Linked DNA regions of Homo sapiens. The protein of the gene in region 3 interacts with the protein of the main gene of each other region in a pairwise test. Each region holds a gene or a part of one and is shown on either strand. Other genes may lie near its edges.

Region 1 (7,105 bases), on a different chromosome or scaffold from region 3:
GCGCCTGGGCTCGGCCCCGGAGGTGTTGCTGGTGCGCAAGCACATGCGAGAGCGGCTGGCTGCATTGGCGGCACAGGCCTTCCCGGAGCGGCCACATGAGAATGCACAGCTGGAACTGGTCCTTGAGGTGGACGGTCTGCGGCGATCGGTGCTCAATCTGGGCGCACTGCTCACCACGAGCGCCACTGCACACGAAACGGTGGCCACGGGAGAGGGCCTGCGCCAGGCGCTAGTGGGCCAGCCTGCCTCGCTCACTGTCACTACCAAAGACAAGGACGGGCGGTTGGTGCGCACAGGCAGCGCTGAGCTGCGTGCAGAGATCACCGGCCCGGACGGCACGCGCCTTCCGGTGCCAGTGGTGGACCACAAGAATGGCACATATGAGCTAGTGTACACAGCGCGCACGGAAGGCGAGCTGCTCCTCTCGGTGCTGCTCTACGGACAGCCAGTGCGCGGCAGCCCCTTCCGCGTGCGTGCCCTGCGTCCGGGGGACCTGCCACCTTCCCCGGACGATGTGAAGCGCCGTGTCAAGTCCCCTGGCGGCCCCGGCAGCCATGTGCGCCAGAAGGCAGTGCGTAGGCCCAGCTCCATGTACAGCACAGGCGGCAAACGAAAGGACAACCCAATTGAGGATGAGCTCGTCTTCCGTGTTGGTACAGACAGCCGAGGGCAGAGCCAGATGGGCCAGGCTCAGGTAGTGGGTGGGGAGGGAAGGGAGGTTCAAGATGACCTCTGAATGAATTATTTTGTTTTCCCTCCTGTCCCTTCCCACAGGCAGTCGTGGAAGGGAGAAAGGTGAATTCACCAATTTACAAGGTGTGTCCGCAGCCAGCAGCGGCCGCATCGTGGTAGCAGACAGCAACAACCAGTGTATTCAGGTAAGCACCTTTACCGCTCTCCTCCACCACCAAAATAAGAGTTTTCAAGCTACAGGCTACTGAAAAGATAGAATGTACAGGTCACCTCCTGGAAGATGGAACCCTACAGATAGTACCGTTCCTTAAGAGCAGTGAATCAAAGGATCACCCCTTACGCACCCACCAGCCACCCCATTCCCATAGGCCACAACTGTAACCAGCACCTTCAGTCAGAAACCAGAGTTTACTATGCTTGTAGCCTCTACTTTGTAGGCCATGGCTTAGGGCAGGTCAGCTCCTGGACTGCAAAGATCTGGCTCATTCCTCCTTTCCTTCTGCCTCTCCTTGAGCCTCTTACTTTCTCCCTTTTTCTCCTGGTGGCCTGCCCTCCGTGTCTTCCAACATGCATGCCTGGCTCCTGAATGTATGTAGTCTGTCTGGAGTCTCTGCAGTTATCAGGTTGGCTAGACAGTTGCATAGGGGTATCTTGGCCAAAGGGGGTATCTTTCAGTGGCTAGAAGTTGTAGCAGGTGGTCCTCCCACTGCCTCTCCCATAACCTCATACACCTGATTATGGCATCAACCGCACTGAATGAACATGGTTTCTGCTGCACTGTGAGCTCCTTTTCAAAGCCAGGAAATGTGCCTTTTTTTCCCTCTGTTTCTTGTAGTAAAAGCTCAGAGCCTAGTACAGTGGGCACCAGGGTAGTTGACACAGCAGAGCAGTTAAAAGCTCAGGCTCTGAAACCAGACACCTGAGCTTGAATCCTAGCTCTGTCACATACTAACAAGTCACATGACCTCTTTGAGCTTCAGTTAACTCATGTGTAAAATTAGGAAAAGTATATCTGATAGGGTTGCGGGGAGTGTTAAATGATGTACTATACTTGACATCTAGTGAAACTTCTGATGTTAGCTATTGTTAAAAATATCATCGTCCAGGTGGAGGCTGTAAACAAAGGCAAGCAGGTGGGAAAGTGCTGGAGGAGGTGGTTCAGGGAACTGGAAGGAGCCCAGCAGGCCTGGAGGTAGATTACTATTAGAAGCCAGGGGTAGCTGAGGTCAGATTGTAATTGGTTTTGGAGATGGAGTGTGGAATTTTGATTTTATCCTATAGGGGATTGTTTCTAACTACCATGCACTTTACTTCTTCGAAACATTTTACTGGGTAGCAAAACTTTTCGCTGAAGATCCTTACTTCTAAACACCTATACGTTTAAACTTCCTGACCCTGCTTGAGTACTCATGTCATCGATCCAGCTCTGCTAAGGTCCTTTCCCTCAGTGACGGCTACTCTCTGACCCCTGCTTTTCACCTAACAGTCTAAAAGTGCAAGGGACTCTTCTGTGGCCATATTCCCAGTTCTGTCCAGTCGTCCTTTACTCCTACCCTATTTCTAAGAGCAGAGGAATGGAGAGGCCCTGTGCAGCACAGGAAGGCATTTGGGCCCAGCCTGGATAGTGAGGAGGGGATTGCGGGGGAGTAATGAGGTGGTGCTCAGTTCCCTACTCAGTTACACCTTCCAGCTCCTTTCCAACTCCCTAGGCTGGGAATGCTTCCTGGCATAAAAGTTGAGATTTGGGACCCCTTCTCTGTTGTGCACACACACAGGTGTGCTCACTGCTCACATGCACAGAAAAACAAGTGCCACTTTGTCTGTCCTGGTGAGGGGGCTGAACTTCCTCATAGTTTTTTTTTTTTTTTTTGAGACAGGGTCTCTGTTGTCCAGGCTGGAGTACAGTGCTATGATCACAGCTCACTGCAGCCTTGACCTCCTGTGCTCAAGCAATCCTCCTACTTCAGCCTCCCGAGTAGCTGGGACTACAGGCGCATGCCACTATACCTGGCTAATTTATTTTATTTTATTTTTATTTTTAGTAAAGACGGGGTTTCACTATATTGTTTGGGCTGGTCTGGAACTCCTAGGCTCAAGCTATCCTCCTGCCTTGGCCTCTGAAAGTGCTGGGATTACAGGCATGAGCCACTGCACCTGGCCTCCCCATTGTTTCAGAGTGGGGAATTGAGAGGGAACACCTGGTATAGCTCCACTCTCTTCCAAACACCTGCTACTTCTATAGCAGTCCTCCTCTTGCTTCTACTTCCACCTGCCCTCTATGTCGCCACTGCTAGGAGCCTGGCTCAGATTTCTAAGTTGAATTTCTGCTTCTCTTACTCTGGAGTCCTTAGGGCTGGCATGGGCTGGGCTCCCTGATGAGGTCTGATCCCCCTCCTCCTCTCAGTACATGGGGATTGGGGTCCTCACGACATGACCGTTTTCTCTTTTGGACACTTCTATGGTGGAGGATGAGGCAGACCTCACTGAGTGGAACCAGCATCAGTTGACAGAAGACAAAAAACATTTTGTGATTCTGAATTAATAATTTGATTTGTATATATTATGTCCTTGTGTAATTGTCTAAGCTTCCAGTTTTATCAGCTCTTCTGTGAAAACTCCCTCATTCCCTTAGGCAGAATGTTAAATCACATTCTTCTCAGTTCCCTCAGCCTTTTGCTATAGTACTTTTCATACTTTACTGGAATCACTGGTTTGTTTTTGTTTTTGTCTGGTTTTGTTTTGTTTTATTTTGGTTTAAGTCTTTCTCCCCCACTAGACTGTGAGATCCCTGAAGTCAGGGATCTACTTTCAGATACCATGGTATAGGAGAGAGATGTTAAGGACCAAACTAGGACACCAGCAGATTCTAGAGATATTAAGGAAGCAAGAATGGCAGATTTTGCTAAATCGTCAAATGTCAAGAATGGCAGGACTTTGTGGACTGGGTAGATGGTGTTGCCATTCAGGAGCAGGCCCAGGTTTAAGTTGATGAATTCACTTTTGCAGATGTTTGAGATAGCTATGCGGCATTCAAGTGGAGATGTCCAGTTCAGGTCTGAGATTGAGCTGGGGAGTTCATTCATTTGTTGAATGCCTACTATGTGCCAAATGCCATATCAGTGCTGCAAGTGCAGCAGCAAACAAAACAGATGCAGTCCTTATGCCATGCGAGGCTTACATCCTTAGAAGGGGACACCGATATTTAACAGTTATTTAGCTGCAAAGTGATAATTGTTATGAAGAGAGCTGTAAAGCATATATCCTGGTGACCTAAGTTTATATGTGCATATTGATTTGGTAGGGCGGAGGGTGGTACTTGGTCATTAGTCTTCTCTGAAAAAGTGACCTGGAAATTCTAAGAATGGAAAGATGAGTAAGAGTTGGCCAGGTGTCAGGGGTGGGATAGGCTGGGACTGGAAGAACAAGACATCCCAAAGCCTCATCAGTATTGAGCCAGAACCTGAGCTGCTCAAACTGGAGGGGCATTACCTCACCGCTAAACTGTACCTTTTAGTGCCCCCTCACTTCTACTATTTAGCTCGTGGAGCTCATGGTATCTCCCTTCTCATACTGATGAGTGCTGTCCTGCCACAGGGGACCACTGCAGAACCCAAGAGCTGTGCTGGTCAGCCAGAGAAGAGCTTAGTAGAAGGTCCACATTAGAAGAAAGTGATGCCTGTTGGTGGGACCAGTTTAAACAGCCCTGCAGGACTAAGAGATGGAGTTGGGGTGGGGCCGGGGCGGGGAGACCAGTCCATTAAGGAAGGCACAGATTTGAATCCAAGAGCAAGGCCAATGCCCAGAACTTGAGTTCTCCAAGGCTGCTCCTGGCTCTCGTTCATCTTGTGTCCCCAGAGCCTATAACAAAGCAGAGTGTATGAGACTTATGTAGTGAGTAATGTTTTGACTATGAAGGAAAAGCCAGAAAGCTTAGCTAAAGTGGGAAGGAGGATTAAAGGAGGTGCTTTTGGGATGGGGAGACCTGAGCATATTGGGCAGCTAAATTAGAGGAGGTTGGAGAAGGGAGAGGTTGAAAGGTTCACTCTGTGTAGGAGGAAGGTTTCCTTGTCAGCCCCATAGCCTGAATGGACTAATTCTTGTATACTTTCTCCTCTCTCACCTACCCCATTCCAGTCTGCTACTAAGTCTCATGAGCCTACCTCCTACATATGTCTTGAGTCCATCTGCGTCCCTCCAGCCAATTTCCTTGGTCCAAGCCATCATCATTTCTCAACTGGAATACTGCAACAGCCTCTGACTGGGCAGCTAGCTTGTAGTCTTGACTTCTCCCTACAGCCAGAATGTTCTTTCTTAAAAGCAAAATTGATCTTGTCACTGCTATGCCTAGAAATGTTAAGAAACTCCTCATTACACCCAGGATAAAACATAATTCCTTCTTTTGTTCACCTGGGTGCTCCCTGCAGTCCAGCCACACTGGACAAGTCCTCAAGTGGTGCCCATACTGGACTTTGTGCCTTTTACAATCTGTTCACTCTGCTTGAATGCCTTTCCTCTTCCTTTCCTGGCCGAATTTGGTTTATGTGGCATCCTCATTAGGCTATTTGTTCAGACATCTTCTTCTCTTGGAGCCTTTTCTCACCATTCCCCTTCATCCCTTCATGTTCTCACAATCCCATTCATATCTCTGTTGCATTGCCCCAGACCTGCTGCCATGTTTGATTTTGTCAGTAAGTGCTTGTTGAATGACTGAATAAATGGTGGTGGGGGGGTCTCCTCCCTCAGGATCCTACTCCCTTCTGTCTGTGCCCACAGTGTCTCCCCTCCTACCTGCTCCCTCCCCTTGCTCCTCTGCTCCAGGTTTTCTCCAATGAGGGCCAGTTCAAGTTCCGTTTTGGGGTCCGAGGACGCTCACCTGGGCAGCTGCAGCGCCCCACAGGTGTGGCAGTGGACACCAATGGAGACATAATTGTGGCAGACTATGACAACCGTTGGGTCAGCATCTTCTCCCCTGAGGGCAAGTTCAAGGTGAGAGGCCTGCTGTCACTTTACTTACCCTGGTGTCCAGCTGAACTGACCAGTCTAGTGCCTCTTGGTGGTCAGGGTCTGGACTGATCCAATCCTACCTCCTCCTACTCCCTGTTCTTTCCCCAGCCCAAGATTCTGCTTTGGTACTGGGTTAGGACTACTTTCCCCACTGTCAGAATAAAGCCTCTTATGGATATTCTCTTCCTCCAGACCAAGATTGGAGCTGGCCGCCTCATGGGCCCCAAGGGAGTGGCCGTAGACCGGAATGGACATATCATTGTGGTCGACAACAAGTCTTGCTGCGTCTTTACCTTCCAGCCCAATGGCAAACTGGTTGGCCGTTTTGGGGGCCGTGGGGCCACTGACCGCCACTTTGCAGGTATAGGGGGACAGCTCCAAGATCTATGCTGATACCCCTGTTCCAGAGAACTCCCCTAGATACCCCAGCTGTAAAGGCCCTCTCCTCCTATATCTTGGCTCTGGAGATCCCACTTCCCTTACGTTAGCCCTATCATCTCAGAAATAATTTGTCTCAGTCCTGGAGACCCCACCCCTCTCCTAACACCCTAGCTTTTATCTTCCCAGATACTCTTCCCCATCCCACTCAGCATCCCAGCTTACTGCCCTGAAGACCACTTTGTATTTTCAGGGCCCCATTTTGTGGCTGTGAACAACAAGAATGAAATTGTAGTAACGGACTTCCATAACCATTCAGTGAAGGTCAGTGTCTTCCCTCCCTCCGTGACCACTGTCCCAACATCCTTTCCTCTTCCACAAGACTCCTCTCTATTTTACCTCCTCCTTTTCCCCTTTGAGATCATTCACTCAAACAATACACATTTACACATTTATGCATGGCTGCTTTGTCCCAGGCAGTATGCTAGAAGCTGGAGATACAGTGATGCACAAAGCAAATGTATTCTGTGTCTTCTTGATTATAGTCTAGTAGGGAAGAGAAAAAGGTAACCAAAAAATTACAATATGATGTAATAGATTCTGTGATAGGAAGGTGCAGGGAACTGTGGGAAGGGATACAGAAGTGTATGATTCAGGAAAGACTATATGAGGAGGACCTCAAGCACAAGTGGGAATTAAATGGAAGGCAGAGGAGGACGAGAGTGTTTGAGACAAAAGACACAGGAAGAGCCAAGAATGCAAGGTGGGAACCTTAATAGTGTGTTCGAGAAATCACAAGTAGTTCAGACTCAGCTTGAGGAGGGGACCGTGAAAGCTGAGAGTGAGGCTTGTGTGCCCCCTTAAGGGGCTTGCTCTCCTCCCAAGAGCTATGGGGAGTCACAGGATTGCAGGCAGGGGAGTGATGCAGTCCTGTGTGTCTTAGATCACTCAGGCTGAGGCAAGACTGAGACAGGAAGATCAATCTTTTGCAGTGATCCAGATGAGAAATGATGTGAGCCTGGACCGTGAG
Region 2 (7,126 bases), about 31 Mb from region 3:
AAAAGATTTCTCAAAAGAATAATCTACATTGCTGCCTCCAATTTCTCCTCCCAGTTTTCTCTTCTGCCTTCTCCAATCAGCCTTTCACCTGTATTCCTCTCAGCTGACATGCCCTTGTCAAGGTCACCCATGCACTCCACGGTGCTGGATCTAATGGTCAATTCTCACTCCTCCTCAGCCACATCTGACACAGCCCATCACTCCCTGTTCCCTGAAACATCGTCTTCATGACACCACACTTGCCTGGTTTTCTTTTTTTCTTTTCTTTTTTTTTTTTTTTGAGACAGGGGTCTCGCTCTGTCACCCAGGCTGGAGTACAGTGGCACCATCTCAGCTCACCGCAACCTCCGCCTCCTGGGTTCAAGCGATTCTCTCACTTCAGCCTCCCAAGTAGCTGGGATTACAGGCGTGAGCCACCACACCCGGCTAATTTTTTTTTTTTTTTCTTGAGATGGAGTGTCTCTCTGTCACCCAGGCTGGAGTGCAGTGGCACAATCTCGGCTCACTGCAACCTCCACCTCCCAGGTTCAAGCAGTTCTCCTGCCTCAGCCTCATGAGTAGCTGGGATTACAGGTGTGCGCCACCACAACCAGCTAATTTTTGTATTTCTAGTAGAGACGGGGTTTCACCATGTTGGTCAGGCTAGTCTCGAACTCCTGACCTCGTGATCAGCCCACCTCAGCTTCCCAAAGTGCTGGGATTACAGGTGTGAGCCACCGCGCCTAGCCATATTTTTGTATTTTTAGTAGAGACAGGGTTTTACCATGTTGGCCAGGCTGGTCTCAAACCCTCCCATGGGCCAGACACAGTGGCTCATGCCTGTAATCCCAGCACTTTGGGAGGCCAAGGCAGGAGAATTGCTTGAGACCAGGAGTTCAAGACCAGCCTGGGCAACATAGCAAGACCTTGTCTCTACAAAAAAATTTTAAAAGTAGCCGGGCATGGTGGCATGTGTCTGTAATCCCAGGTACCAGCTACTTGGGAGGCTGAGGTTGGGAGGATCACTTGAGCCCAGGAGTTTGAGGCTGCAGTGAGCTAGGATCACACCACTGCACTCCAGCCCAGGTGACAGAGTAAGATCCTATCTCTAAAAACCAAACAGCAGGCCAGGCGCAGTGGCTCACGCCTGTAATCCCAACACTTTGGGAGGCCGAGGCAGGCAGATCACTTGAGTCCAGGAGTTCAAGACCAGCCTGGGCAACATGGTGAAACCCCATCTCTACTAAAAATACAAAACTTAGCCAGGTTTGATGGCATACGGCTGTAGTTCCAGCTACTCCAGAGGCTGAGGCAGGAGAATCACTTGAACCCAGGAGGCAGGGGTTGCAGTGAGCCGAGGTTGCAGTGAGCCGCGATCGCACCACTACAATCCAGTCTGGGCAACAGAGTGAGACCCTGCCCCCCCCCCCCACACACACACACACACACACACACACACACACCAACAATGACTAAAATACTAAGTTATCTGTCACCACCCCTACCCCATTGCCTCTTGGACCTTGTCCTTCACTGCCCTCTTTTGCTCACTCCACTCCAGCAATGCTGGCCCCTTTGTGGTTCTGTGAATGATCCTACTACATGGCCTTTGCACTTGCTGTTTTCTCTTTCTGGAACCCACTTTCTCCTTCATTCCTTCAGATTTCTGTTTCAGTCTCACCTAATGAAAGAGGCCTTTCCCCATGTAAATTAATTCTGGCTGCATTACTCCATTCCCTTAGCTGCTTTCTTGTTATTTATTTGTTTATTTATTTAGAGACATAGTCTCGCTCTGTCACCTGGGCTAGAGTGCAATGGCAAATCTCGGCTTATTGCAACCTCCGACTCCTGGGTTCAAGTGATTCTCCTGCCTCACCCTCCTGAGTAGCTGGAACTACAGGCACGCATCACTATGCCCAGTTAATTTTTGGCATTTTTAGTAGAGACAGGGTTTTGCCACTTTGGCCAGGCTGGTCTCAAACTCCTGGCCTCAAGTGATCCACCAGCCTCAGCCTCCCAAAGTGCTGGGATTACAGGCATGAGTCACCATGCCCAGCCACTGCTTTCTTTTTCTCCTTGGTACTTATCACGAAGTTACACTGTATTTCCTTATTGTTTGTGTCCCCAAGAACTAGAATGTAAGTCTTTTTGTTTTTTTTTTGTTTTTTTTTTGAGACGGAGTTTCACTGTTGTTGCCCAGGCTGGAGTGCAATGGCACGATCTTGGCTCACTGCAACCTCCGCCACCCGGGTTCAAGCGATTCTCTTGCCTCAGCCTCCCAAGTAGCTGGGACTACAGGCATGTGCCACCACGCCCCGCTAATTTTGTATTTTTAGTAGAGATGGGATTTCACCATGTTGGTCAGGCTGGTCTCGAACACCTGCCTCGGCCTCCCAAAATGCTGGGATTACAGGTGTGAGCCACCGCGCTCATCCTATTGTTGTGTTTCTAGCACCTTAAGCAGAGCCTGGCACATATTAGATAGTCAAGAAATATTATTGAATGAATTAATGAACCAGCAGTTAATGAGCACAATAATTCTATGCAGTGTGAAGGCTGTTGCTTAAATGCAGGAGGTAGTGGATGGGGTTTGTGACATGGCCCCACCCTGGTGAAACAGCCTTTCCTCAAAGCGTCTATAATGCCACACTCTCCTGGTTTTCCTCTCTCTGGCTGCCTTTTGCAATATTCATCGACAGCGTCAATTCCTTTGCTCAAATCCTGCCTCTCTGTTTCAGGGTTCTGTTCAGTCCCTGTCTCCAGTGACCCTTCATACCCTCCCCGGGCTAGACCCCTAACTCCCACAGCCTCAATTACCATCTTTGACGATCCTTAAATCTTGGTCTCCAGCCTCAATTTCTCCCTTAAGCTCCAGACCCAGGGTTTGTGCACCTCCTGGACCTCGCTACTAGGCATCCACATTGGGCTTAGTATCTTCCCAACCTGCTTCTGGCGCCCAGTCTCCCGGCTAGAGGGGCCTGGTCCTAAACTTTTCTCCCCCTTCCACTCCATAGCCAGCCAGTGTCAGGGCCCGTTCGCTCTGCCTCCAGGGCGTCCCTCCCACCTGCACCTCCTTCCCTCCCCACAGTCCCTCCCTCGTGCAAACCCCCTCTTTCTTCCCCACCCCCTCCCCCAGCTGCCTCCCTGGACTCCCGATCCCGTTTCATTCCCTCCAATCCGCCCTCCATGTATAAGCCAGAGAGACATCTCTCCAAAACCCCAGACTCACCATGATCCTCCCCGGCTTGAAGCCCTTCACGGCTCCCTAGTGCCCTCGGGACAAGTCCAAACTCCCTCAAGTGGCCAAACAACTGGCCTCTGCTCGTTCCTCACCCCTCCCTGTCTTCAACTCGACCCTCCATCCCGACTGCCTCTCTAAGTGCCTGTAACAAGCCAGATCTCTGTCACCGAGAGCCTTCTGAACACAGGTCCCTCTGATTAGTTCACCCGGACCCAATACAGTTTGTGGAACGCACAGATCACAACCAAAGTCACAGCAACAACTCCCGTTTATTGACAGCCTCCTTGATCCTTAGCGCTTTCTGTGCATTCTCTTCCCACCCTAAAGGCTAGATCTCGCCTCGCCATTCCCATCGGAGAGAGCAAGCGGCAAGGCTGAGAACAGCGCGATGAGAAAGCCGAGCGCCCAGAAGCCCGAGTGCAGACGCCCACTGAGGACAGCCTTGGGTGAGGCGGGCCACCCAAGGGGCGGGGAAGAGGAGGCCTGGAACGCCTGAATCAGGAACTGTGACTTCGCTCGGGGCAGCTGGGGTGGACGCGCGCGAGCCTGCCCCCTGCGGGCCTGGAGGCCCAACCTCAGACTCCGCCGGGCCCGTTGCCCTGGGCAACGCCCCGCGCGCCCCGCCCCTTCCCCGCCCCCCAGCCCCAAACCCCAGGCCTGGCCGACTGCCCGTCACCCCCACGTCCGACCAATCCCGCCGAGGAGGGGGCGGGCCTCTTGGGCCCCGTTCCACCACCGTCGCTCCCCCCTCGCCGCGACCCCGCCTTACTCGGCTCACACCTCCCGCCCTTCGGGCTGCCCTCGCCGCCCGTTGGCTGGCGCGCCGTTCGTCACCCGGGCGTGAGCTAATGCCGGCGCGCGGCGGCCCCCGTCGGGGCGGGGCCAGGGGCGGTGACGCACGGCGCGGTGACGCAGCGCGACGGCGGCGGCGGCGGCGGCGGCGGTGGTCGGTGCGGGAGGAGGGAGGGGAGCTTGCGGGCCCGAGAGGGGGCGACGGCGGCGGCGGTGGCCTGAGGAGGCCCGAGCGGCGGCGGTGGCGGCGAAGGCCGAGGCGGTGAGTCTCGGGCCGGGCCGGCGCGGGGCGGCGGCGAGTCGGGGCGCGCGGGGCTCCCCTCAGGGCGACCCAGGCCGCGCGGGCGGCCCCGCCCCCTCAGGGACCCCGAACCGCGGGCGGCGGCGGCGGGCGGGTGCGGAACGCGGGCCTCGGGGGGCCGGGCCCCACGGGAGAAGCCCCGCGCCCGTCCCCAGTCTCCCTCCTGGGCCCTGGCCGAAGCTTCCCTCCGAAATCTTTCTCATGCCCTCGGGATTGCCGAGGGGCCGGGCCGGGGGCCTCTCCTCAGGACCCCCCGCACATCCCCCTCGGAGAGCCCCGGAAAGCCTGCCGATCCCCCGTGTGCGCCCTGAAAGGTCCCCGCAAAACCCACCCCTCCCGTGGAGTCGCCTCCTCGAGCCCTTCATGGGTCCCAGCAGCTTTCCTCGCAGACCCCCGCCCTTTGGCCCCGAAGCCCCCGTCCTCCTCCTGTCTCCAGAAATAGTCCTCGGAGGCCACTCCTCGTCCATTCCACAGCGTGGCTCTCATAGCTGCTCCAGGAGCCTCCCTCACGAGCCCTGCACACCTCCCCAAGGCTCCCTCCGGACCCCTGTCCATTCCAGAACTCTCCCCCGGAGCCCTGCCTCTCACAGCCCAACAGGCTCACCCGACTTCCCCCTCCCGGATCCTAAGAATTTTCCCTCCCACTTACCCCATTCCAGAAACCTCCTTGGAGATTTTCCGCTCATACCCCCTGCATTTCTGATTCCCCCTCCCAGAAGTCCTTCAGAATGCCCCCGACGGACCGTGATCATCTTCCCTGAAGATCTCCTTCCCATATCCCCAAAATAAATCTTCCTCACAGACTTTGTGAAATGCCCCCAGATCCCAAAAACTCACCTAGAAGACTCCATCCCCCTCCCCACCGTATTGCAACCATCTCTCATACACACTCCCCCTTCACGTATCCCTCTGGACCTTTCCACAGATCCCAAAAGTCTCCCCCAGAGGCCTCCTGTCTCCCCCTGGTCTCACCACCCTAAAATGCCCTAGAGATCACCCTCATGTAGCCCAGTGATCTTCACCGGGATCCCCTTCCCCACCCCCACTCATTCTAAAAATCTCCAGCAATTGCCTGAAATCTCCAGAGGACTCTCAGCATCATATTCCAAAAGCTTCTTCCAAAATCCCTTTTACATACTCCACATCTTTTCCAGTCCCCCACATCACACGCTCCAAAAATTGTTTAAGGATCCTGAAAACTTTCCTCATGGTTTTTCTCTCAGATCCCGTAGAACTCCCCTTCACTAACACCTCAGAATCCCCCCTTGCAGACCGGTTTTAGAGGAATTTTCTGAAGATCCTCCTCACAACCCCTGTAAGACCGTAAGATTCTCTTGGTGACCCCTCTGATATGCAGGTTTTCAGGACCCCCCCCCCCCACACACACACACAGCTTAGAGACCCCAGCGACCCCCTGGAGCCCTCCTGACGTATGTTCTTGAAATCCCTCCAAGACCTTCCTGACACCACCAGAACCCCTTGAATCAATACTTCTGCCTTACTAAGGGACTTTTCTAGAGATATCCCTCCCTGAACTTGCTCACACAGGTCCCCTAAATCCTCTAGAATCCCTTGAAGAAGACCCTCACACACACCTAATTTTCCCCCAAAATAACCCGAGCTCTTGCTCTGAGAAAGTCCTATAATTCTTTCTGAAAAACCCTCTCCTCTGACACTCTCTCAGAAGACCCCGCCTTCCCCATATACTCTTTTGGAGACTTTACTCAGCTTTCTCCTCAACTGAGATCTCTGAAGAGTTTTTCCTAAAAACATCCCTCTGTCATCCCACTCCAGGACCAGTCTCAGAAGACCACACCTTCCTCAGACACTTTTTAGAGAATTTTCTCCCAAATTGCCCTCCATCAGCCACCCACTCCCAGCGCTTCCTGAGACTTCCTCAGAACTTTCCCTCAGATTCCACTTCTGACATCCCCAAGAAACATTATTTAGGACCCTATCAGATTTACCCACTAACTTTAGAATTGCTATTTACACCCTCTCATTTCCCCATTCTCTTTCCTCTGAAGTCAACTCAGAGACCTTTCTCAGGGGGCCCCCTTTTCCCATTATCCCTTCAGAGGTCCCCAACATTCTCCAGACTCGTTGCCCAAGAGCCTCTATGTTTCCTTGTAAAGATTCTTGAGAGACACCTTTCCCCGCCCCCTTGAAATCCCAGTGCTCCGAGATCTTTCTTTCAGACCATTTTTCTTAGGTGCCATGCTCATAGACCCCTCTTCCCTTCAGAGATCAAGAGACCCTTAACACCCTCCTTAGAGACTTAGGATTCTCCCCATTTCCCTTTCAGAAGCCTTCTTCCTTCTCCCCTTTGAGGACCTCCTCACCAAATAATCCCTTCCCCTATAGCAGTGGTTCTCAGTGTGGTTCCTGGCCCAGCAGCAGCCACATTTGTTAGAAATACACATTCTTGAATCCCACTCAGATCTACTGAAACTGAAAACCTGGGAGCAGGGCCCAGCAATCAAGAGTTTTTAACAAACCCTCCTGGTCATTTTGATGCACACGCAAGTTTGAGAACCTGTGCCCTTTAGGAGGATTTCCTTTTCCTCACTAAAAGCCCCCTGAAAGATGCCTCAGGGTATGCCTCTGTGCCCTACTGCCCACTGCTGCTTTCCTGTTTCCTAGGAATCCCCTTTATGAAGTACCCATCCTCCAGAAAGATTTCTTACCTACCTTGAAAGGATCTTGGCTTCTCCACAAGGTTACTCCATCCTCTGAGCAGTTATTTCCGATTCTACTTTTGAATGGTTTCTTTTCAGATCTTCCTCAGTGCTTTCTCTTTCTGGCTACCCCTC
Region 3 (7,327 bases):
ATGTGGTGGTGCATGCCTGTGGACCTAGCTACTTGGGAGGGAGGGTGAGGCAGGAGGATCACCTGAGCCCAGGAGTTCAAGGCTGCAGTGAGCTAGGATCATGCCACTGCATGCCAGCCTGGGCAACAGAGGGAGAAAAAAAAGAAGAATGAAGAAGGAGGAGGAGGAAAGGAGAAGGAGAAGAAGGAGGAGGAGAACAGAAAGTGGAGGAGGAGAAGGAGGGGAAAGAGGGAGGAGGAGGAGGGGCAAAGAAAAAGGAAAGGAAAGAAAGAAAAGAAAGGAAGGAAGGAAGGAAGGAGAGAGGAGGGGGAGGAGGAGGGGGAGGAGAAGGAAGGCAAGGAGGAGGAGAGGGAGGAGGAGGGGGAGGGGGAGGAGGGGGAGGAGGAAGATGGGAGGGGGAGGGGGAGGAGAGGGAGGAGGAAGATGGGGAGGGGGAGGGGAGGAAGGGGGAGGAGAGGGAGGAGGAAGATGGGGAGGGGGAGAGGAGGAGGGGGGAGGAGAGGGAGGAGGAAGATGGGGAGGGGGAGGGGAGGAGGGGGAGGGGGAGGGGGAGGAGGAGGAGGAGAAGGCGAAGGCGAAGGCCTAGTGCAGTGACTCACACCTGTAATCACAACACTTTGGGAGGCTGAGGCAGGAGTTCAACACCAGCCTGGCCAGCATGGCAAAACCCTGTCTCTACTAAAAATACAAAAATTAGCCAGGCACAGTGGTGGGCGCCTGTAATCCCAGCCACTCTGGAGGCTGAGTTAGGAAAATTGCTTGAACCCAGGAGGCGAAGGTTGCAGTGAGCCCAGATCGTGCCATTGCACTGCAGCCTGGGCAAGGACTCCATCTCAAAAAAATAAAGAAAGAAAAAGAAGGCCAGGTGCGATGGCTCACGCCTGTAATCCCAGCACTTTGGGAGGCCGAGACAGGCAGATCACCTGAGGTCGGGAGTTCGAGACCAGCCTGACCAACGTGGAGAAACTCCATCTCTACCAAAAATACAAAATTAGCCGAGTGGTGGCGCATGCCTGTAATCCCAGCTACTCGGGAGGCTGAGGCTGGGAATTGCTTGAACCCCGGAGGCGGAGGTTGCGGTGAGCAGCGATCACGCCATTGCACTCCGGCCTGGGCAACAACAGCAAAACTCCATGAAACAAAGAAGGAAAGAAAGAAGAAAGGAAGGAAGGAAAGAAGGAAGGAAGGAAGGAAGGAAGACAGGAAGAGTCACTCCAAAGGAGAGACAACCTTTCTCACAGGTCCCTTCCTCAAAGCGGTCTTCAAGGAACCCCTTGTCCCTTGCTACCGCTTCACCTTGCTTTGTTATATATACAACATTTGTCACAAACTGGCATTACCTTGTTCTTCCGTTTGTCTTTTGTTTTGTTTTGTTTTTAAAAGCCAGGTTCTGAGCTGCCACCCAGGCTGGAGTGCAGTGGTGCAATCATGGCTCACTGTAGCCTCCAACTCCCAGGCTCAAGTGATCCTCCTGTCTCAGCCTCTCAAGTAGCTGGGACCACAGGTGCACACCATCACACCCAGCTCATTTTTATTTACTTATTTATTTATTTTTGAGACGGAGTCTCACTCTGTTGCCCAGGCTGGAGTGCAGTGGTGCAATCTCGGCTCACCACAACCTCCGCCTCCTGGGTTCAATCGATTCTCCTCCCTCAGCCTCCCGAGTAGCTGGGATTACAGGTGCGTGCCACTACGCCTGACTAATTCTTCTATCATTTTTATTTATTTTTTGTAGAGATGGGATCTCACTATGTTGCTCAGGCTGATCTCAGACTCCTGGGCTCAAGCGATCCACCCACCTTGGTCAGCCTCCTAAACTGCTGGGATTTAAGGCGTGAGCCACCCCACCTGGTCTCCTTTATTAGTTTACTTAGTGTATCTCTCCCACCCACTAGGACAGAAGCTCTCAGAGAGTAGAGAGCCTTGCTGGTCTTGTCCTGCAAGGAAGCTGCAGATGCCGACAGACAACAGGTGCTCTTAAAGCTCTACTAAATCCAAAAGGAAGTTTTGTCTTTGGACTCCCTGTGGCGGTGCCCAGAAGGTCCCTGACTTACAAGTTTCCAACCCTAGAGGTTTCCAGTCGCAGGCCCAGACCTGGTCAATGTCAGGGCTTTTTTTTTTTTCTTTTTTCTTTTGAGACGGAGTTTTGCTCTTGTTGCCCAGGCTGGAGGGCAGTGGCACGATCTCGGCTCACGGCAACATCCGCCTCCTGGGTTCAAGCGATTCTCCTGCCTCAGCCTCCCAAGTAGCTGGGATTACAGGCTTGTGCCACCACACCCAGCTAATGTTTTGTATTTTTAGTAGAGATGGGGTTTCACCATGTTGGCCAGGCTGGACTCGAACTCCTGACCTCAGGTGAATCACCCGAGTCGGCCTCCCAAAGTGCTGAGATTCTAGGCATGAGCCACCGCGCCCGGCCAAGTCAAGGCTTCTTTTACCCTGTCAGGGAGAACTCTCCGTCTCCCATCCTAAGTCCAGGTAGGAACATTTCCATGGATGGTTTGGTTTTGTTTTGTTTTGTTTTGAGATGGAATCCTGTTCTGTCGCCCAGGCTGGAGTGGGGTGGTGCAATCTCAGTTCACTGTAACCTCCACCTCCCAGGCTCAAGCGATTCTCTTGTCTCAGCCTCCCAAGTAGCACAAGCCACCACACCCAGCTAATTTTTGTATTTTTAGTAGAGACAGGGTTTCACCATGTTGGCCAGGCTGGTCTCAAACGCCTGACCTCAGGTGATCCACCCTCCTCAGCCTCCGAAAGTGCTAGATTACAGGTGTAAGCCACTGTGACCAGCCCAAGCCTACAGCACCCGGTATTCCTAGGTGGTCTCCCATCCAAGTACTAACCAGGTCCGACACTGCTTAGCTTGCGAGGTGAGACGAGGATCAGATGCTTTTAGGGTGGTATGGCCATAGATACATCCAAGGTTTTTCTTTTCTTTTCTTTTTTTATCTTTTTTTTTTTTTTTTTTTTTGAGATGGAGTCTCACTCTTCGCCCAGGCTGGAGTGCAGTGGCGCAATCTCGGCTCACTGCAAGCTCTGCCTCCTGGGTTCACGCCATTCTCCTGCCTCAGCCTCCTGAGTAGCTGGGACTACAGGCGCCCGCCACCACGCCCTGCTAATTTTTTTGTATTTTTGTAGAGACTGTGTTTCACTGTGTTAGCCACGATGGTCTCGATCTCCTGACCTCGTGATCCACCCGCCTCAGCCTCCCAAAGAGCTGGGATTACAGGCGTGAGCCACTGCACCCGGCCTCCAAGGTTTTTCAGACGGAGAACAGATCAAGGTCCACCTCCACAGATTTGCTCATCTAAGACCCAGCTCAGGCCTCCCAAGTGGGGCGGCCAGGGTGGGGGTGGGGAGGCAGAGAAGCTGGGCCCCCCAGGACTTCGGAGCTGCTTGTGCCCCACTCCCCACCTGGAGGGCAGACCACAGTGTTGGGCAGGGACAGACAGGAGGGCATCCCCACTCTACTCAACTTCCGTTGGTTCAGCCCAGTTCCCGCCCATGGCCAGAGCTTGAAGGGAGAAGCCGTCCCCTCCCCGTCCTCTCCTCCCGCAACTCCACTCCCAGCACCTGAAAACTGCAGTCACCTGTGCCTTGGCTGGGCTTTAAGGCCAGGTGACTGGGCCTTGCGGGGTTAGAAGGAGCCCTTCCGCACTTCCTCTTTTTCTTTTTTTTCTTTTGGAGACAGGGTCCTTCTTGGTGGCCCAGGCTGGAGTGCAGTGGCATGATCGTAGCTCGCTGCAGCCTCTCAACTTCCCAGATTCAGGTGATCCTTCCACCTCGGCCTCCAGAGTAGCTGGGACTACAGGCACACACCACCACACCTGGCTAATTTTTAAAATTTTGTTTTTGTAGGTTTTAAAATTTTTTGTAGAGATGTGGTCCCACTATATTGCTCAGGCTGGTTTCAAACTCCTAGGCCCAAGGTATCCTCCTGCCTCGGCCTCCCAAAGTGTTGGATTACAGGCGTGAGTCACAGAGCCCGGCCTCCACATTTTCTCGACAGGGTCCGTAAGACCTGGTTCCCAGAAAGGTGGCCGTAGAATGGCTTTGGGAGTTCAGCGTCCCCAGCTCCCTCAGTTTCCCCAGCTGCCAGGGTCCAGCCAGACTGCAAAGTTGCAAAGTTCTAAGACCCCTGCATCTCCCGCCAGCCCCGAGCCCACCAGGGCAAAGCAGCCTAAGACGGCTGTCTTCCCCCAACCCTGCTGATCGCGCGGCGCCTGGAGTAGGGTCGACCTGGGCGCGCCTGCGGCGAGGCGGGGCCGAGTCGTCCGGGGGCGGGGCGGGGCGGCTCCGGGTCTCCTGTCCCCGCCTGCCCTGACTCACCCTCGCGGCCCGCCCGGGAACTCTGCGGGAGTCGCGGCAGCTCCGCTCCCAGAGACCCAGGAGTTGGGCCCAGCGTCCCTCCCGGAACGGTGAGTAGGTGGCTCTTTGCCTCTGGACACCCCACGAGGTGGCAGGGTGGGGGTCGGGCTGGGAGTCCCCGGGTCTGGACAAGGGGCAGAGCCGCTCCAGGTGCGCCGGCCCTGTGGCCGGGGCAGGCCGTCCCGACACACCAGGAGCTGGGGTGGGGGTGCCGGCCGGTGCAAAGGGAAACCTGGCCCACGAGGTGCCCGTCCTGGGAGCCAGGCAGACGCGGCCAAGTCTCAGAGTGAAGATAAACAGGCTGAAGATAAACTTGACTTTGGGGGTCTCAACCACTTTCCCCTCCCCTTGGCATCTGGGAAGACATTGACAACTCATCCCCGGGAGACTCTCAGAGCTCCAGAACCTACCACTTGGGGTGGGTTCAACCAAGCCTGACCTCTGGTGCTCTTGAACTTACACATGTCCCAGATCTTCAAGTCTGCTGGCAGAGGCGGCTTGGAAAACCACTCGGCTGGGAATCCGCAGGCCTGGGGCCTGACCCAGGACGGGCTACAAAGATGCCACCCTCCCCCACCCTAGACCCTCAGTTTCTCCCTTGCATAAATGGTTGAGGCTCAGCCGGACACCGTGCCTTACGTCTATAATCCCAGCACTTTGGGAGGCCGAGGTGGGCAGGTCACCTGAGGTCAGGTGTTTGAGACCAGCCTGGCTAACACGGTGAAACCCCATCTCTACTAAAAATACAAAAATTAGTGGCGTGTCCCTGTAGTCCCAGCTACTGGGGAGGCTGAGGCTTGAGTACTGCTCGGACCCAAGAGGTGGAGGTTGCAGTGAGTTGAGATTGGGCCACTGCACTCCAGCCTGGGCAACAGAGCGACACTCCATCTCAAAAAAAAAAAAAGATTGAGGCCAGGCACAGTGGCTCACACCTGTAATCCCAGCACTTTGGGAGGCTGAGGTGGGAGGATTGCTTGGACTCAGAAGTTCAAGACCAGCCTGGGCAACATAGCGAGACTCCATCTCTACAAAAAATCTAAAAGTTGGCTGGGCATGGTAGCACGCACCTGTGGTCCCAGCTACTGGGGAGGCTGAGGCAGGAGGATCACTTGAGCCCAGGAGTTCGAGACTACTATGAGCTATGATCGTGCCACTGAACTCCAGCCTGGGTGACAGAGCAAGACTCTATCTCTCTCTCTCTCTCTTTTTTTTTTTTTCAAGATAGAGTCTTGCTCTGTTGCCAGGCCGGAGCGCAGTGGCACGATCTTGGCTCACGGCAACCTCCACCTCCCAGGTTCAAGCGATTCTCCTGCCTCAGCCTCCTGAGTAGCTGGGACTACAAGCATGTGGCACCATACCCAGCTAATCTTTGTATTTTTAGAGATGGGGTTTCATCATGTTGGCCAGGATGGTCTTGATCTCTTGACCTCGTGATCCACCTGCCTCAACCTCTCAAAGTGCTGGGATTACAGGCGTGATCCACTGTGTCCGTCAGGACTCTATGTCTAAAAAAAAAAAAAGGTTGGGCCTTGTTTTCTACAAAACCCCTCTTAGGGCTGAAAACTGCTGGATGTTTCTTGCTTCTTCCCTGCCTCTTAGCATGGGCTGTGGGTGTGGAGGGTCTCACTCTCCCACCCTTCCCCCAGCAGGAACTCATCACCACATTTTTTGGAGGCAAGTGGCTTGAGGAGGACCTGGGAGGGAGGAGGGGTGAGGCATGGGTGGATGGAGCCAGGGCTGGTGGGAGCCACATGGTCTCAGGCTGGAAAGCCTTCCAGCCTGGCCTGCCACAATGCAACACCGCTCTTAGGTGCTTTTGGCAAAGATGCTGTGGTTTTTTTGTTGTTGTTTGTTTTTTGAGATAGAGTCTTGCTCTGTTGCCCAGGCTGGATTGCAGTGGCGCAATCACGGCTCACTGCAACTTCCACCTCCTGGGTTCAAGAGATTCTCCTGCTTCAGCCGGGCACGGTGGCGCACGCCTGTAATCCCAGCTCTTTGGGAGGCCGAGGCAGGCAGATCATGAGATCAGGAGATTGAGACCATCCTGGCTAATACAGTGAAACCCCGTCTCTACTAAAATTACAAAAAATTAGCCGGGCGAGGTGGCGGGCGCCTGTAGTCCCAGCTACTCGGGAGGCTGAAGCAGGAGAATGGTGTGAACCCGGGAGGCGGAGCTTGCAGTGAGCCGAGATCACACCACTGCACTCCAGCCTGGGCGACAGAGTGAGACTCTGTCTCAAAAAAAAAAGAGATTCTCCTGCTTCAGCTTCCCCATTAGCTGGGATTATAGGTGCCCACCACCACTCCAGCTAATTTTGTATTTTTAGTAGACATGGGGTTTTACCATGTTGGGCTAGCCTGGTCTCAAACTCCTGACCTCAAATGATCTGCCTACCTTGGCCTCCCAAAGTGTTGGGATTACAGGCGTGAGCCACCGTGCCTGGCAAGATGCTGCATTTTAATTAGAGGCTGTCTCCCAAGAGGGAACAGAGCAGTTGCAATCCTACAGGCAGGACCTGGAGGTTGGATGGGTCAGGCTTCGAATGCCGCTTGGAACTGTAGAAGCTTGAGCAAGTTATTTCTCTCCCCTGAGTCTGGAAAGCAAAGTCTCCGACATCCACGCTGCCTGGGTTGGGATAAAATGAGGCATTCAGTGTCTGGTGGAGAAAGCTGAGCGTATACGTCCCATCGTTTTATTTTCCCTGGCTCTGCCCCAATTCTTCGAGCCCCTGTTCCTGGACCTTCCCACCAGCCCTGCTCAGACAAAGTGGGGGCCTATTTTATGTCTGTGGAAATTTAATGGCAGGTTTGTGAGGATCAAGTTTGAGTCATGGAGACAGATAATGATAGCCCCTGTGGCTGCCCCCCGGTCCCCTGAGTGTTGCTGCCTTCTTGTCTGCGATTGTGCACCTGGGATGGCTATTGGTGGAGCTTACACCAGGGTGGCAAGGACAGGAAG

The links.
Region 1: the proteins of LRRC8E (region 3) and TRIM3 interact in binary tests that used the Homo sapiens proteins (3 or more experiments, as listed by UniProt).
Region 2: the proteins of LRRC8E (region 3) and SAMD4B interact in binary tests that used the Homo sapiens proteins (3 or more experiments, as listed by UniProt).

What each region holds. Positions count from the first base shown.
Region 1 is NC_000011.10:6,449,845-6,456,949, reverse strand, and holds part of TRIM3 (tripartite motif-containing protein 3), read left to right. Parts: coding exon 1-653; intron 654-774; coding exon 775-878; intron 879-4,827; coding exon of another isoform or gene 4,828-5,076; exon of another isoform or gene 5,077-5,511; coding exon 5,512-5,679; intron 5,680-5,889; coding exon 5,890-6,058; intron 6,059-6,328; coding exon 6,329-6,399; intron 6,400-7,105.
Region 2 is NC_000019.10:39,338,303-39,345,428, forward strand, and holds the start of SAMD4B (protein Smaug homolog 2), read left to right. Parts: upstream 1-4,118; 5' UTR 4,119-4,274; intron 4,275-5,822; exon of another isoform or gene 5,823-7,126.
Region 3 is NC_000019.10:7,884,183-7,891,509, forward strand, and holds the start of LRRC8E (volume-regulated anion channel subunit LRRC8E), read left to right. Parts: upstream 1-4,327; 5' UTR 4,328-4,418; intron 4,419-7,327. UniProt on the Homo sapiens protein: Non-essential component of the volume-regulated anion channel (VRAC, also named VSOAC channel), an anion channel required to maintain a constant cell volume in response to extracellular or intracellular osmotic changes.